Homo sapiens: one gene and its partner. The protein of the gene in region 1 interacts with the protein of each later gene in a pairwise test. Each region holds a gene or a part of one and is shown on either strand. Other genes may lie near its edges.

The links. The genes of interacting proteins can lie anywhere in the genome.
Region 2: the proteins of DHX38 (region 1) and NUDCD1 interact in binary tests that used the Homo sapiens proteins (3 or more experiments, as listed by UniProt).

Annotation. Positions count from the first base shown.
Region 1 is NC_000016.10:72,096,045-72,104,729, forward strand, and holds part of DHX38 (pre-mRNA-splicing factor ATP-dependent RNA helicase PRP16), read left to right. Parts: intron 1-94; 5' UTR 95-113; coding exon 114-436; intron 437-777; coding exon 778-965; intron 966-1,632; coding exon 1,633-1,737; intron 1,738-2,600; coding exon 2,601-2,748; intron 2,749-2,882; coding exon 2,883-3,001; intron 3,002-3,159; coding exon 3,160-3,236; intron 3,237-3,687; coding exon 3,688-3,843; intron 3,844-4,391; coding exon 4,392-4,553; intron 4,554-5,041; coding exon 5,042-5,149; intron 5,150-5,455; coding exon 5,456-5,568; intron 5,569-7,029; coding exon 7,030-7,167; intron 7,168-7,557; coding exon 7,558-7,744; intron 7,745-7,901; coding exon 7,902-8,087; intron 8,088-8,441; coding exon 8,442-8,582; intron 8,583-8,685. UniProt on the Homo sapiens protein: Probable ATP-binding RNA helicase. Involved in pre-mRNA splicing as component of the spliceosome.
Region 2 is NC_000008.11:109,289,088-109,296,087, reverse strand, and holds part of NUDCD1 (nudC domain-containing protein 1), read left to right. Parts: intron 1-2,563; coding exon 2,564-2,744; intron 2,745-6,154; coding exon 6,155-6,337; intron 6,338-7,000.

The DNA of each region.
Region 1 (8,685 bases):
GGTTAATCACCTACATATAACCATAACTGCATTTATTGTGGGATATAGTAGAGCTGAGCCTTCTCTAGTACCAAATGGTTTGCCTTCCTTCCAGAGAAATCCCAGATCCTGTGATGGGGGACACCAGTGAGGATGCCTCGATCCATCGATTGGAAGGCACTGATCTGGACTGTCAGGTTGGTGGTCTTATTTGCAAGTCCAAAAGTGCGGCCAGCGAGCAGCATGTCTTCAAGGCTCCTGCTCCCCGCCCTTCATTACTCGGACTGGACTTGCTGGCTTCCCTGAAACGGAGAGAGCGAGAGGAGAAGGACGATGGGGAGGACAAGAAGAAGTCCAAAGTCTCCTCCTACAAGGACTGGGAAGAGAGCAAGGATGACCAGAAGGATGCTGAGGAAGAGGGCGGTGACCAGGCTGGCCAAAATATCCGGAAAGACAGGTAAAGGCCTTAGTATGGGTTAGCCCAGAGGGAAGCGAACGGAGGCTGGAAAATAACAGCTCATGTTTATCTCTCAGTTTTCCTGTTGGAGATTTAGAGCTTTATGATTTTATTATGATTCTGTAATACTGAAGGTAGGTAGGAATTTGTGGGGAAAAACAAAGGTGAATAAAGACGAGATGGTAGAGGTTAGAAATGCCTTGGGTTGTTGCCATATGTGAGCCTGCGTCCCAGGGAGAGAAAGTGGAAAAGGACAGATCACTTGTTTGGACAGCCAAAGGTTTTAGGGCAGAGTTTTTCTCCTATGGAGGGGCCTTTACCAGTTGCTCTCCCTGTTTCAGACATTATCGGTCTGCTCGGGTAGAGACTCCATCCCATCCGGGTGGTGTGAGCGAAGAGTTTTGGGAACGCAGTCGGCAGAGAGAGCGGGAGCGGCGGGAACATGGTGTCTATGCCTCGTCCAAAGAAGAAAAGGATTGGAAGAAGGAGAAATCGCGGGATCGAGACTATGACCGCAAGAGGGACAGAGGTAAACTGTCCAGCACAGTTCCTATTGTCCATTAGCATTCGAATAAATGTGTCAGCCTTTTTCTTGTTGCAGGAGTTTTTGCAACACCCATTTGTTAGGGAGTCCTATTTGCATGATGTCCGCCTGAGTGGTTTTGACCCTGCTGGGATTGGGAATACTAGTTTAAGAAAAGAGCTGTTGCCTGTAACATAGCTGCTCTCCTTGAGTGTGTGGTCTTCGTTTTATTATGAAAATTGATGATAAAGGAGATAATGGGTAAATATGTATAAGAGACCAGCATTTCTAATAGTATTGGTGATAGAGAAAGGACAGTGCTATGGAACAAAGCTAGACAAAAAAATCCAATGCTGTCCTTGCTCAGTATTAAGTTTTATAGCTGATAGAATTGTAACTATTAAAAAAAATGATTCACTGTAAACTCGCACTAGTATTTTTTGAATTCTTGCTGGAAAATAACTGTTACTGTGGGTTTGAAATTTTCTAGGCAGTAACTATTTTTCCCCCTTGGGAGAATGGGGATAGGTGAGTTTCAGGAGTCCACGGATCACATTCGAGCAGTGCAGGTTGCACCTGTGAGTGAGTGGGCAGCCTGTCCTTTCTCTAGGGTGAAGATGTGTATACCTTAGGATGGGATGCATGTTTTTAAGCTTCGTGTGACTCTTCATAGATGAGCGGGATAGAAGTAGGCACAGCAGCAGATCAGAGCGAGATGGAGGGTCAGAGCGTAGCAGCAGAAGAAATGAACCCGAGAGCCCACGACATCGACCTAAAGGTAGACTCACTGTTTTGGTGGCTTGTGAGGATTCAAGTGTATAAAAGGCAGAGTGAGTGACTCTCGTCTTCAGTGAGATTGCTGAGGCATTGAGTCAGAATTCCCGATTCTACCATGAACATCTTGGGATAGTTGGTTCTGAGTCAGGTGGGCACAGCTCTGCACTTGGGGTGGATATGGTTCCTGTAAGGTGAGAGGCTGGTTTGCTGAATGGCCAGTTTTCCAAATGGTAGGAAAGAATAGGGAGCTGGAGGTAGAAGAAGTGTTTATTAAAAAGAACTACTTATATCCAAGAAGGGTGTGTTTGTAGAGATAAAGTAAATATCCCTTAAAATGTTGTCATAAACACAGAATGCAAACTGGACCATTGGCTAGGTGCAGTGGCTCATACCTGTAATCCCAGTACTTTGGGAGGCTGAGGCAGGCAGATTACTTGAGGTCAGGAGTTCGAGACCAGCCTGGCCAACATGGTGAAACCCCATCCCTACTAAAAATACAAAAATTAGCCTGGGGTGGTGGTGGGTACCTATAATCCCAGCTATTCGGTAGGCTGAGGCAGGAGAATCACTTGTACCCGGGAGGCAGAGGTTGCAGTGAGCCAAGATCACACCACTGTACTCCAGCCTGGGCGACAGAGCAAGACTTTGTCTCAAAAAAAGAAAAAAAGGAAAAATACATCCTGGACCATTAAAAATTGAGATATCTTTAAAAACTGTCAAAACCGATCTTAACCGTTATAGATACATGCAAGGTTTAGAAATAGTAAAAGGAGTAAATTTGGGGAATTGACTTTTGGCAACTGGTTCTAGACCATGTCATGGTTAAGTGAGATGTTTCCTGTGGATGTGTCTTTTGTGGCCCAGATGCAGCCACCCCTTCAAGGTCTACCTGGGAGGAAGAGGACAGTGGCTATGGCTCCTCAAGGCGCTCACAGTGGGAATCGCCCTCCCCGACGCCTTCCTATCGGGATTCTGAGCGGAGCCATCGGCTGTCCACTCGAGATCGAGACAGGTGATGTTCTGGGCAGAGCAGCCCAGTTTCGCTGGGTGGGCGGTAAGGAGCCTCGGCAGGGAGAGCAGATGGTGGCCAGGAGGACGTGGCTTAGCTCAGTGACAGTTTTGTGATGCTGGTGCTGCTGTTCCCAGGTCTGTGAGGGGCAAGTACTCGGATGACACGCCTCTGCCAACTCCCTCCTACAAATATAACGAGTGGGCCGATGACAGAAGACACTTGGGGTCCACCCCGCGTCTGTCCAGGGGCCGAGGTGAGGCCTGTGGGGCAGCAGGCAGAAGAGCAGGCTTGCTTGCCCTAGCGAGGATGAGCAGGGGCTGCCCTTCTGGAGCTGCATGGCCCTGCAGATCTGTCTGGGGCCGCTGGGGACAGGCCAGGGCATGGACTGACCTGCTTCCTGTGCTCCTCCAGGAAGACGTGAGGAGGGCGAAGAAGGAATTTCATTTGACACGGAGGAGGAGCGGCAGCAGTGGGAAGATGACCAGAGGGTAAAGTTTTATACCTCTGAGGGGCTGATCGGGGCTGGTGGCCGTCTGTAGATGGGTGACCCTCTAGCAGGACTGGGCTTTGATGAGGGTACACCTGAGCCCTGTTCAGACCCAATGCCCTGGAGTCTCTTTGCAGAGGCATAGACGGCACGGTGAACCCTGTCACTCACTGCAGTAGGCTGACCTAACTGTTCTGTTATGTGTTGGTGCCACCATGTGGTAAATCTAAGAAGTGCTATCGTGATGGGCTGCCCTCCAGTCCTGTGTAGTTGCCCACTGTGGTTCTCCTCCAGATGGCATGTGTCTGCAGGGAGGCCTCTCCTGCACCCCTCACAAGGGTAGCTCCACTGCAGTAGTGACTTCCTACCAAGCGTCCCTTCTTCTGTTGGCCATGTCTCGTGCATAAACTTGATCTGTCCCTCACTCCCTTGCTTTGCCTCCTGCCCTGCAGCAAGCCGATCGGGATTGGTACATGATGGACGAGGGCTATGACGAGTTCCACAACCCGCTGGCCTACTCCTCCGAGGACTACGTGAGGAGGCGGGAGCAGCACCTGCATAAACAGAAGCAGAAGCGCATTTCAGCTCAGCGGAGACAGATCAATGAGGTGAGGCTGCCTGCAGAAGTTGGAGCAGATTCAGAGCTGGAGGTAGAGCACGTGGGGAAGCAGCAGGTTATCCCCAAGTGAGGGCAGCACAGCTTGTCCCCTGATTGCCGAGAAGCCCAGATCCTCTGGAGGTGGAAGAGGAGTGGGTGATGAGCCTTTTAGTAGCTTAAGGAAAGCCCCGGCTCGTACTTCTCTCTTTTGCAGTACTTCCTTGAGGGGAAGTACTGTTGATGGGAACAGGTGCATTGGGACCTGCCTCTGTGGTCTGTGTTCTTTGTGTCTCTGATGTGGGCTAGGGACACTTACCATTTGTGTGTCCCTCTAGAGGTTCTGATTTAGATGAAAGGTGCTGCTGCTTGGAACAAACTCCTGCAGGTGATTTGGGATCAGCACCTCTTCTGTCTTTGGAGCTGTGGGTAGAGGCCTGTGACATCTTTGCAGCTACCAGTGGCCTTCTGTCAGGACTTGATGTGTGGACTTACCTCATAACCTTTCAGGACGACCTTTGGGGTGGCAATTTGAGTGTGGCTCCCATTGTGTCCTCACAGGATAACGAGCGCTGGGAGACAAACCGCATGCTCACCAGTGGGGTGGTCCATCGGCTGGAGGTGGATGAGGACTTTGAAGAGGACAACGCGGCCAAGGTGCATCTGATGGTGCACAATCTGGTGCCTCCCTTTCTGGATGGGCGCATTGTCTTCACCAAGCAGGTGAGGCTCCTCTGTGGCCAGGGACAAGACAGCTCAGAGAGACCTGATGTGGGCCAGGTGCAGTGGCTCATGCCTGTCATCCCGGCACTTTGGGAGGCTGAGGAGGGTGGATCATTGGATACCAGGAGTTCAAGGCCTGCCTGGGCAATATAGTGAAACCCTGTCTCAAAAGTACAAAAATTAGCCGGGTGTGGTGGCAGGCACCTGTAGTTTCAGCTACTCGGGAGGCTGAGGCAGGAGAGTTGCTTGAACCTGGGAGGCAGAACCTGCAGTGAGCAGAGATCACACCACTGCACTCCAGTCTGGGCGACAGAGCAAGACTCTGTCTCACACACAAAAAAGGCCTGATGTGGAGACAGAAAGAAGAGAAGGGAGAAAATAGCCCTGTACCATGAGAGGGTAGCAGTCCCTTTCACAAGTAGGGATCTTATGAACATGGCCTTCTTGCTGATTTTAACGGGCATCGCTCTTTCTCCCCACTGCTGCAGCCGGAGCCGGTGATTCCAGTGAAGGATGCTACTTCTGACCTGGCCATCATTGCTCGGAAAGGCAGCCAGACAGTGCGGAAGCACAGGGAGCAGAAGGAGCGCAAGAAGGTTGGTTTCTTGGTTTCGTGGCTGGGAAGTTTATGTGTATTTTTTTCTTTTTTCTTCTCTTCATAAGTCTTACTAGGCCCACAGATAGAAGTTAGGAGTCCCCTCTATCAAGTCCTTAGGCCCGACAGCTGCGGGGCCTGGTGTTGGGAGAGCTGGAGGCTTGAGGATTGGAATGTGGCTCGGTGCCACCAGCACTCTGGGGGAGTTTACCACCTGCGGGGTGAAGTCTGCTCTCCCGTGGGATTGATTTTCCATTGCTCGCAGTCATGTGGCAGGATGGAGCAGACTGACCTTTTTCCTTTTCAGGCTCAGCACAAACACTGGGAACTGGCGGGGACCAAACTGGGAGATATAATGGGCGTCAAGAAGGAGGAAGAGCCAGATAAAGCTGTGACGGAGGATGGGAAGGTGGACTACAGGTGGGCAGCCTCAGCCAGCAGCACATCAGCCTTGCTCCAAAGATGGGGGCCCATGTGGGCAGTTGCGGCAGAACCCATCGACTTTGTGGCTCCTGAGTGGGAGACTCTTAGGATACCTCTCTGCATCTTCCATTCTCTCTGGTCCCTTCCTCCTGGTCTCTTCACTGTCCTCCACTTTTCCTATATGTGATTCCTCCTCCCTCACACTGCTTCCTCTGGTGCTGGTGTTGTGAGAGGAAGGAGGCCCAGGGAGGTTAAGTAACTTGTCTGAGGTCACCCAGCTTGTCAGTGAGGGAGTTAGGATCAGACCCAGGCCGTCTCACATCAGAGCCACTCTGCTGAAGTACCTCCCAGGTGTTCAGCATGGGCAGCTGGGTTTTAGTCCCTTAGATTTGAGTTCACTATAAGAACTATTTTTAAAAGAGGTTCCAAAATAGAAAGGGTTATCTTATTGGCCAGTGACTTCTCTGCTCATAGAGGCATCTAAGCAGATGCTGAGTTGGGATTCCTGCATTGGGCAGGTGGCTGGACTTATCTGTCCCTTAAGATCCTCATCCTTCGAATGCCCTTATGTTCTACTGAACGGTCATCTGAGTTAATAATTCTCTCCACTCCTGTGTGAAATGTCCATACGAGAAGTTGGTACTATTGATCAGCCCTTATTCTTCTCTAGTTAACTTAATTCCTCAGGTATTAGTTATTGGGTGACCAGGAGGGACTGGGTGAAATTAGAAATAGGAAGCTCAGCAGAGCATGGGGCGGCACATCAGACAGGAAGTCTCTGGGGAGGGGGTTGGGGAGGGGTGTGTGGACTGTGTGGAGCACTGAACTGGTGTCTTTTTGCCAGGCAGCCTTGAGAAAGTGACAGTGCTCTGCATCTCGGGTGTGTACATGTGTCAGACATTGAGAGCTTTCAGTAGAGGTTGCAGGTTACTGTTTAGTGGGGCTGTTTTCACAGTTCTTTGAAAACAAAACCGTACAGACTATGCTTTCCTGCTGTCCTGCCAAGAGGAGGGAGGAAGTTTGACCCATGTCCCGTGCTCTGCACCCTTACCTCCTCACAAGGCCTGTGTGGCTATTTTAGCCCTTTAGACGTTGTGCTGAAATTGCCCGAGGGTATTTTCTACAAGTTAGTGACCTGGGGATTGATTTCCACTCCTCTTCTGCTCACTCTGTTTTGGTTAGAGGGTTTGCTAATATGGTGATCTGTAAATCCTCCGATCCATGTTCAGCTAGCTCTGTTGGACCCTGTGGTGTCGAGTGTGTTGTGGATGATGGATTCTCAAGTAGCAGTTTCAGTCCTGAGGTCGATGAGAACCATCTCAGATTCCCTGGCTGCTTTGGTGTCTCAGACTCTTGCCGAAGTCCTCATTCCTGAGCGTAGGAAGGAGGGCAGCAACCCAATCAGGAAGGACAGCATGGGGCACCATGCAGGGTGTTTAGGCTGCTGTGTGTTCCTAGGACAGAGCAGAAGTTTGCAGATCACATGAAGAGAAAGAGCGAAGCCAGCAGTGAATTTGCAAAGAAGAAGTCCATCCTGGAGCAGAGGCAGTACCTGCCCATCTTTGCAGTGCAGCAGGAGCTGCTCACTATTATCAGGTAACTTCACCCGGGGCCCAGGAATCTAGTGTCAAGTCAGGGGTGCCCTTGGTCTCCCATGTTTACCCAGGAGCTCTTTTTCTTTTGTGCATTGCACCCAGTGGAGAAGGGAAATACTTTTTTCCTCTGACCTCATGCCTGGGGTACACTGCACAAAGTAACGGGATGGCACCATTTTGTTTTAGCTCACCTGTTTAAACCTCACCGTATTCCAGATGTTTCAGGTGTTATCTCAGTAAGAGGCTGTTGTCCCAGTGAAATTCTCCCTTCTAAACCGGCATGCTCCCTGGATAGCTAGTCATGGGGATAGGAGGTAGCGGAGTCTTCTTGGAGGCTGGGTGTTGGCCTTCCACTTCGGCTGATAAGCCCTTTGCCTGCTTGTCCTTGTAGAGACAACAGCATCGTGATCGTGGTTGGGGAGACGGGGAGTGGTAAGACCACTCAGCTGACGCAGTACCTGCATGAAGATGGTTACACGGACTATGGGATGATTGGGTGTACCCAGCCCCGGCGTGTAGCTGCCATGTCAGTGGCCAAGAGAGTCAGTGAAGAGATGGGGGGAAACCTTGGCGAGGAGGTGAGTGGGCGTGGGGGCTGAGCCATGTAGTTATTCCCTAGTAGCTTCCACCCATTTTTGCTAAAGGGTGTGATCTGCTAAGACTCGGACCCCAGTACGGGGTGTGCTGGTGGTGAGCCGGTGGCCAGGGCATCTGAGCCATCTCTCTGACCTCCAGGTGGGCTATGCCATCCGCTTTGAAGACTGCACTTCAGAGAACACCTTGATCAAATACATGACTGACGGGATCCTGCTCCGAGAGTCCCTCCGGGAAGCCGACCTGGATCACTACAGTGCCATCATCATGGACGAGGCCCACGAGCGCTCCCTCAACACTGACGTGCTCTTTGGGCTGCTCCGGGAGGTGAGGGCTGTGTGGTTTGGTCTCTCTGCGCATGGGGTGTTGACCAGTGCACCACCAGTAGCTAGTGGGTTGCTCCAGGTGGGCTGAGGGGGTCTCTGGTAGGCCAGAGGTTCCTGAGGCCTCTGGTTGCAGTTCAGACTCGGGTTGTAGTTCATGCTGTTCTTGCTCTGCTGAGGGTGGCTTGGGGTTTTCTGGGCAGTGGCTCCATTGCTTCAGTCTTCATGATTGGTAAGAATTGAATAGGCCCATTTGTCAGCTTTGGCTTGTGTTTCCTCGGGGGTGGTGCTGATGGGACTGGGGGACAGGAGCCAAGGGTCCCCACCATGGGGGCCTCCGAGCCGCCTCTTCTCTCAGGTAGTGGCTCGGCGCTCAGACCTGAAGCTCATCGTCACATCAGCCACGATGGATGCGGAGAAGTTTGCTGCCTTTTTTGGGAATGTCCCCATCTTCCACATCCCTGGCCGTACCTTCCCTGTTGACATCCTCTTCAGCAAGGTATTGAGGCCACCATGTTACGAACTGACCCTTCCATGCCACGCACTTCTCTGATGCGAAGCCGGCTGGAGGGTGGAGGGTGGGTAGGGGACTGGGTTGGAGA
Region 2 (7,000 bases), on another chromosome or scaffold:
TTCTTGAAGAAGAGTTGACCAAAAGCTTATGTTAGGATGATTTTCTCCTCTGCCATTATGTTAGATTTGCTGGGATGTTTACATTGGTCAAATAGTAGTCAGATTACCAGAATATTCTCTACTTAGAAAAATACATGATATAAATATATAGTTATATGCCAATTTCCAAGACAACATTTTTACTTTAATTTTAAAAATTAGATATAAATCTAAAGGGTAGTTTAGGGTTTTAATAGTAATAAATAAGGAATTAATTTCTCTAGAACTACAGTTTTTGAAAACAGAAGAAAATGATGCCAAGTAGATAATCAAAAGATTTAGTTTACTGCTTCAGCTCCTTTGAGTTATGCTAATAAGTGTATTGTAATATTGCTACTGTCTGAATCTCTGTAGGTAGCCTTTAGTTCTGGGTAAATAAAGAGATGCGAGCTTAATATATTTATGTCTTATAAAATAATTTCATCTGACCAACAGATGCCTACAGAGACCAGGCTTTAATTACTTGAGAAAAACCAGTTAGGTCTTAGAACCAAATGGTTTACCTACCTTACTAAGTTATACTAAATGTTATACTACCAAATTATAGTATGTTCAAAATACACAGTAAATAACCAGAACAGCAGTAGCCTATTTACAAGAGCCTGTTGCATTCACAGTTTCAGATATTCATTGGATACTGTGGCAATTTCTGTTTTGGCCTTTAGTAACAACTTTCATTTTTCTGAAAAACAGAAGTAATGTGGTATGTAGCACAGCTACCTGAAACAGTTGGAAGGTATTTTGAGAATAATGCGCAGGAGAGATATGAGTGGGAATTTATCTGGTATTGAGCTGTATGGATTCTGTAGATTTTGAACAGGACAAACCTACTTGGCTCACTTTCATCTTAAAAATAATACCACACATTATTTCATATGGGCTTATACTTCTTTTGGTTTTGTTTTGTGTATCCCCTTGGCGTGTATTAAGACTTCAATAGTATCTTTTAAATAAATTTAAAAACTTAATTCTACCTTGTGCCTTCTTTAGCATATACTGCCCTAATGAAATAAGCTCCCTTCAGAGATGTTTTCAGCTAATAATAGTTTTGACTAGATACTGGTGGGAGAGGGAGGAGACTTGGGGATTAATTGAGGTGGGAGGGATACTGTGGAATATTGGTCACTTTAAGAAACAATTCAGGAGGGTTTTAGGACTTTAGGGTAATTAATATAACAGAGAAGCTAAAAGTAGAAGTGATTACGGAGCATGGTGGGGGGTAAGGGGGCCAAGGGTGGTGGTGGTGATTACTGAAGTTTAAAAAGAGAAATTAAAGGAGACAGCTTGCTTTCCAAATGTGTTGCCTCTAATACCATGGAAGTGCCATGTATCAACGGTATCACAGTTTAGATGCTGGGCTTGTTCAGAAAACTAGAAACTTCAGCCTAACAATTTTTAAAAGTACGCCATCTACTCTTCTGGTTTCATTACAGTTCCTTTCACTCATACTAGAAAGAAAAAAAGAAACAATAAACTAGCTACTTGTTCCTGCCAAAACTTGTCATTTTCTGTTCTTCCGTTTTGTTTCCCCTATTCCTCAAACAAAAGCAAAACCCAATCAACCAATAAAAACCTGCCTTCATCTGTCATCTCTGTTTTGAATATTTAAGGATTTTTTTTAAGCTTTTGTTTTTTCTGTTTATGGAAATCTTAAGAATGGATTCTGAAGGCCCATTACTTGAATGATTTTGGCAGATGTTCAAATACATAGGGAACTTGATGACATTAAAGCACATTTTTCTTTGTAAGGTTTTCAAGTAGAAGTAGATATGTGGGGATACCAGGTACAGGTTTTGTTTTTTGTTTTTTGTTTTTGTTTTTTAAAGCTACCTTTTTTTCAGTTAGGCTTTTTCTCAACTGTCCATATCTTATTTGGAAATCTTGTTTAGGAAGCAGCCTTAAAACCTTCTCTATTTTGTATTTAGTCTTAAAAATGTAATAGTTGTTGAGATCTTGTGTTTGTGGTATAAGAAAGAATTTGATAAGATTTTGTGTGTTTCTGTATGATGCTTAGACAAGATTTTGTGTGTTTTTATATGATGCTTTTTTGCTTTTCAAAAAACACTTTAGGATTATTTTAAATAGAGTTTGTTAACTTATTCTTAAATGCTAATAGGCTCTTTTGTTTTTGAGAAAAAACATGTTTTGGTGATTTATTCTTCAATGTTTTTGACTCTTGCCTTTGTAAACTTCCAGAGAATAAATAACAAACAAAAAACAGGAAAAAGGCATACACACATGCACACTCATATACAATATCTAGAAACTGAGAGGAAGCAAGGTAGCCAAGACTAATGATCAGTTTTTTTCTTATACAAATAAATATTTTCTTAAAAGTTCTGTCCTCAGGGAACATTATCTAAACTTGCAGTCTTTATGTAAAGGCCTTTTTATTTTCAAATTTCTTGTAATAAATAGTATCCAAAATAACTGTTGAATCACCAGAATCCTATATATTCCCTCTATGCTATCTGTGTTCATGTAATTATGTACACTTTTTTGTGTGTGTAATTTTGTTTTGTAGATTATGTTTAATGAAGAACTTGGGGATCCTTTTATTATAATTCACAGTATCTCACTGCTAAATGCTGAAGAACATTCTATAGCTACCCTACTTCTTCGAATAGAGAAAGAGGAATTGGATATGAAAGGAAGTGGTTTCTATGTTTCTCTGGAGTGGGTCACTATCAGTAAGAAAAATCAAGGTAAAACAAAAGTCTGAATCTGTCTCTACTGGTTGGCATTATTTAGTAGATTTTGAAACACAAAGCTGTCCCTGTAAATACTGTTTGCTCTTTCTTGGGCATTGTGTTACAATTCTGGCACCTGCCACCACTGGTGGAATGAATATGTATAGATAGTTTTTCCTCAGGTATATTTTATAGAAAAAAATTGCAGTGTGCATCCACAGCCAATTATGCCTTTTATATAAAAGAAGACATTGTTATATAAGTTTTGAATAATTTAACGGGTATATTTTTAATATATACAAAAATATATGCATATATATGTGTGATACACAGAAACATATACCTAAAACTAAATGTAAATTAATACATTATAGTATAATTTAAATGTAAATAAATATAAATACTTACTTGGAAATGAATGTCTTTATTTCATTAAAGTACAGGTATGATTTCTTTTAAATCTAATTGAACTTCATTATTTGTTTCTACATTTAGGAAAACTGTTACTTTTTCTTACCTGATGTGCTCCCATGTTTAGAATAGTCCTGAACTTTGGTCTGTTTGAAGCTGTCTGTCAAGCTTCTAACTTGACATTAAAAATTACAATCTCATGAATTAATTAGGATTTCTTTAAGGTATTAAGAAATCTCTTTGCCTTTGCTTAGTTCCTGCTGACTCATTGAGTGTTTTCTTTTTAACTGTAGTTGAGTACTGAGAGTGCTTGTTTCCATAATGACTCTATGCTCTTTTTCTCAGTAGTTTTTATTAGCTGACTCATTTATGAGTAAGTTAATATAAATTAAATTATCATTCATCTCTGTAGAAAAATATTTCTTTACCATAGCTGCTAGTTTGCAATTCAGTAAAGACTGTTAGTATTTGTTTCCTAAGAGGGTTTTGCCTTTTATTCTAAAACAGCTATCTGTCTATCTAATAGATATCTCAAAATTGTTTATAAATAAACTGAATAAGTCTCCTAGATTTGTTCTTTGAAGTATTCAATATAATTTATTAGTTCTTTTTGGTGTTGTAGTTTTATCTCTGGAGGAACACAGTAACTTTAAACTTTAATTAGATATTAGAAAACTTTTTTGAAATCCCAGTTGGTAACCATAAGATCTATGTCACAGCTATCCGAGTATGCCAACACAGTACAAAAGCATCCATAGACAATATATAAATGAATGAGTATAGTTGTGTTCCAATCATACTTTATGGACATAGGAATTTGAATTTTATGTTTTTTTGACATATATTTAAATATTATTCTTTAAATATTACTATTTTAACAATTTAAAAATATAAAATTCATGCTTAGCTCACAGGCCATACAAAAATAGGCCTAGATTCAGCTTTGGCTCAAGGGTCCTAGTTTGCAGAACCCCTGCTTTAGATAATGGAAGCCTTAATTTTTTTAAGGTACGTAATTCAAAATCTTACAGGAGACATTGTCATGCATATTCCTCCTCCTTTCTCCAAGACACTTGGTTCTGTAACATCTTTTTCTCAATCTGTGGTAACTCATCAAATTGCCTCAGAACATAGCAGTACTCTGCTCCAGCTCTACTTCTCCATCCCGTTTGTCTTCGTTTCTTTGCCTCAGCTGGACAAATACATTGAGACTAACCTTTTTTCTCCCAAGATTGTAGTTATAGAATCATTAATTCTCTTTATTGTTCCCTTTATCTTTCTTTTATATCTTGTTCCTTCTCTCCCAGACTACTACTAATATGATTGGTTTTTTTCTTCTTTTTCTTTTTAGTTAACAGAACAGTATTTTCGTAAACTATTTTGAATGAAACATTTCATAAAGTATATTTATGGTCAGATAAGTTTGAAAATGTGGACATAAAATAGCTCCATTACACATTAAGCATATTAAAGTTTCTAAAAATTGTGAGTAAAAAAAGTTTAGGTTAGATGCAAAGGCTCATGCCTGTAATCTCAGCACTTTGGGAGGTCAAAGCAGGAGGATCACTTGAGCCCAGGAGTTTGAGACCAGTCTGGGCAACATAGTGAGCCACCGTCTCTACAAAAATTACAGAAACATTAGCTCGGCATGGTGTTGTGCACCTATAGTTCCAGCTATTCAGGAGGATTGCTTGAGCCTGGGAGTTTGAGGCTACAGTGAGCAGTGATCGTGCCACTGCATTTAGCTTGGGCAACAGGGTAAGACCCTGTCTCAAACAAACAAAAAACAATTTACATTTAATTTTAACCTAGCATTTCTCCACATATTTAACCACGGAATCCGGTTTTTGAGGCTTCCTATTCTTTTCTGTCCCATGCATGCTGGGAAAGGCCACGCTATAAATATGTGATGTCGGTGTTTGGATCTTTAAAGTCAAGTAGGACTTTTGGCCCTGCATGTATCTATAGGGGAAGTGTAGGAGTTTTGTTCATTCATTAAATTACAAGCCTGTTCTTAAATATGTGTGAACTGAATGTGTGAATGTAGGTGAGGATTTTGAGTAAAAACAATGAGATATTTTAGAACAGATGGTATTATTATGTAAAAACTCATAATAATATGACATTAAGTTGTGATTTTCGACTACTCAGTATGAAGCCTACAAGTATAACCCACTTAAAGAGTAACAGTATAGGTAAAAGTATGGAGTCAGCTAAAATGTTTGAGTACTTTTTAAAGCAAAAAATTACTGTCTTTATAGGAAAATAAGTTTAATTTGTCAGAAACTTTTGGAATACAGTTAATTGTTTATATCTTAAAAGTAGCACTAATTTATGTTTAATTATAAGCATATAGATAAATGTCTTGTGTAAAAAAAATCATTTCTGCTATAAATTTATTTCATTGTTAAAATGCCCCTTATCGGGAGTTAGAGCAGGCAGAAAAATAGACCACACTGCATGTTTCCCCTTGTCCTCAATTTGTCACTTTTCAGAAGAAACTTATCACATACCTGCTGAGAAGGCAGACAGGCTTTAGTCAAGGAGAGGTAGGTCATACAGAAGCTGTTATTCCAAGTAAGCCGGTCATGTTGGAGTTCTGGGGTACTGCTGTCTAATAAGAGATTTCTCCAAGATGGACATGTTTTATATGTGTACCATTCACTGCAGTAGCTACTAGCCATGTGTGGCTATTGAGCAATTAAAATGTGGCTAGTATGACTGAGGAATTTAAATTTTACTTAATTTTAAGTAGATACTTCTGGCCAGTGACTACCACATTGGACAGGACAATCGGGAACAAATTTCACCAGACCCAATATTTTAAAATAGGGACTTATTTACGGAAAATTAGATTGTAAATTGTTTATCCTTATGAAAAGACTCTTAATAGTGTACCTTTTAATAATACATTCAAATTATTTAATTATAATTAAAATCAATTTTTAAATATCAGAATATTTTGATAATAGTTTTTATTTGTAATGTTTTGTTCTGAAATACTTTTCTTACAGATAATAAAAAATATGAAATTATTAAGCGTGATATTCTCCGTGGAAAGTCAGTGCCACATTATGCTGCTATTGAGCCTGATGGAAATGGTCTAATGATTGTATCCTACAAGTCTTTAACATTTGTTCAGGCTGGTCAAGATCTTGAAGAAAATATGGATGAAGACATATCAGAGAAAATCAAAGGTAATTTTTATTCTTAATAGAGCTTATTGGTATTTTCATAAACATATATTTATGTCTTTTATTTTCCCAGTTAGGTTAATAGTTCTACAAGGGCAAGATAGATGCATAATTTTTTCTTTATTTTCTCATGTATTTTCCAGAAGTCTTTTATAAGGTATACCACCTTAATAGTGTGAATGAACTGGTTTAATTTGATCATTTTGTTATTACCAAAAATGTTTTTTTAAAAAATCGTTTATTAGCTTCCTTGATTAGGTGCTTAATAAATAGTTATCAAATAAATGTCTATTTGCTATTAGTATTGATGGTATTAATAGTGTAATATTGAAGATACTAATTTTTAAAAATAAGTTAAGCTAATGTACCTGTTCTTACCTTTTATACTAAACTGAAAGTAAGTTCCTTGAGGGCAGAATCACATAATTTTATTAATGTTGAATGAATGAATGAAGGTTATGTTTTAGCATGAAAAGACTGGCCAGGCACGGCAGCTCACGCCTGTAATCCCAGCACTTTGGGAGGCCTAGGTGGGCGGATCAAAAGGTCAGGAGATCGAGACCATCCTGGCTGACACGATGAAACCCCGTCTCTACTAAAAATACAAAAAAAAATCCGGATGTGGTGGTGGGTGCCTGTAGTGCCAGCTACTTGGGAGGCTGAGGC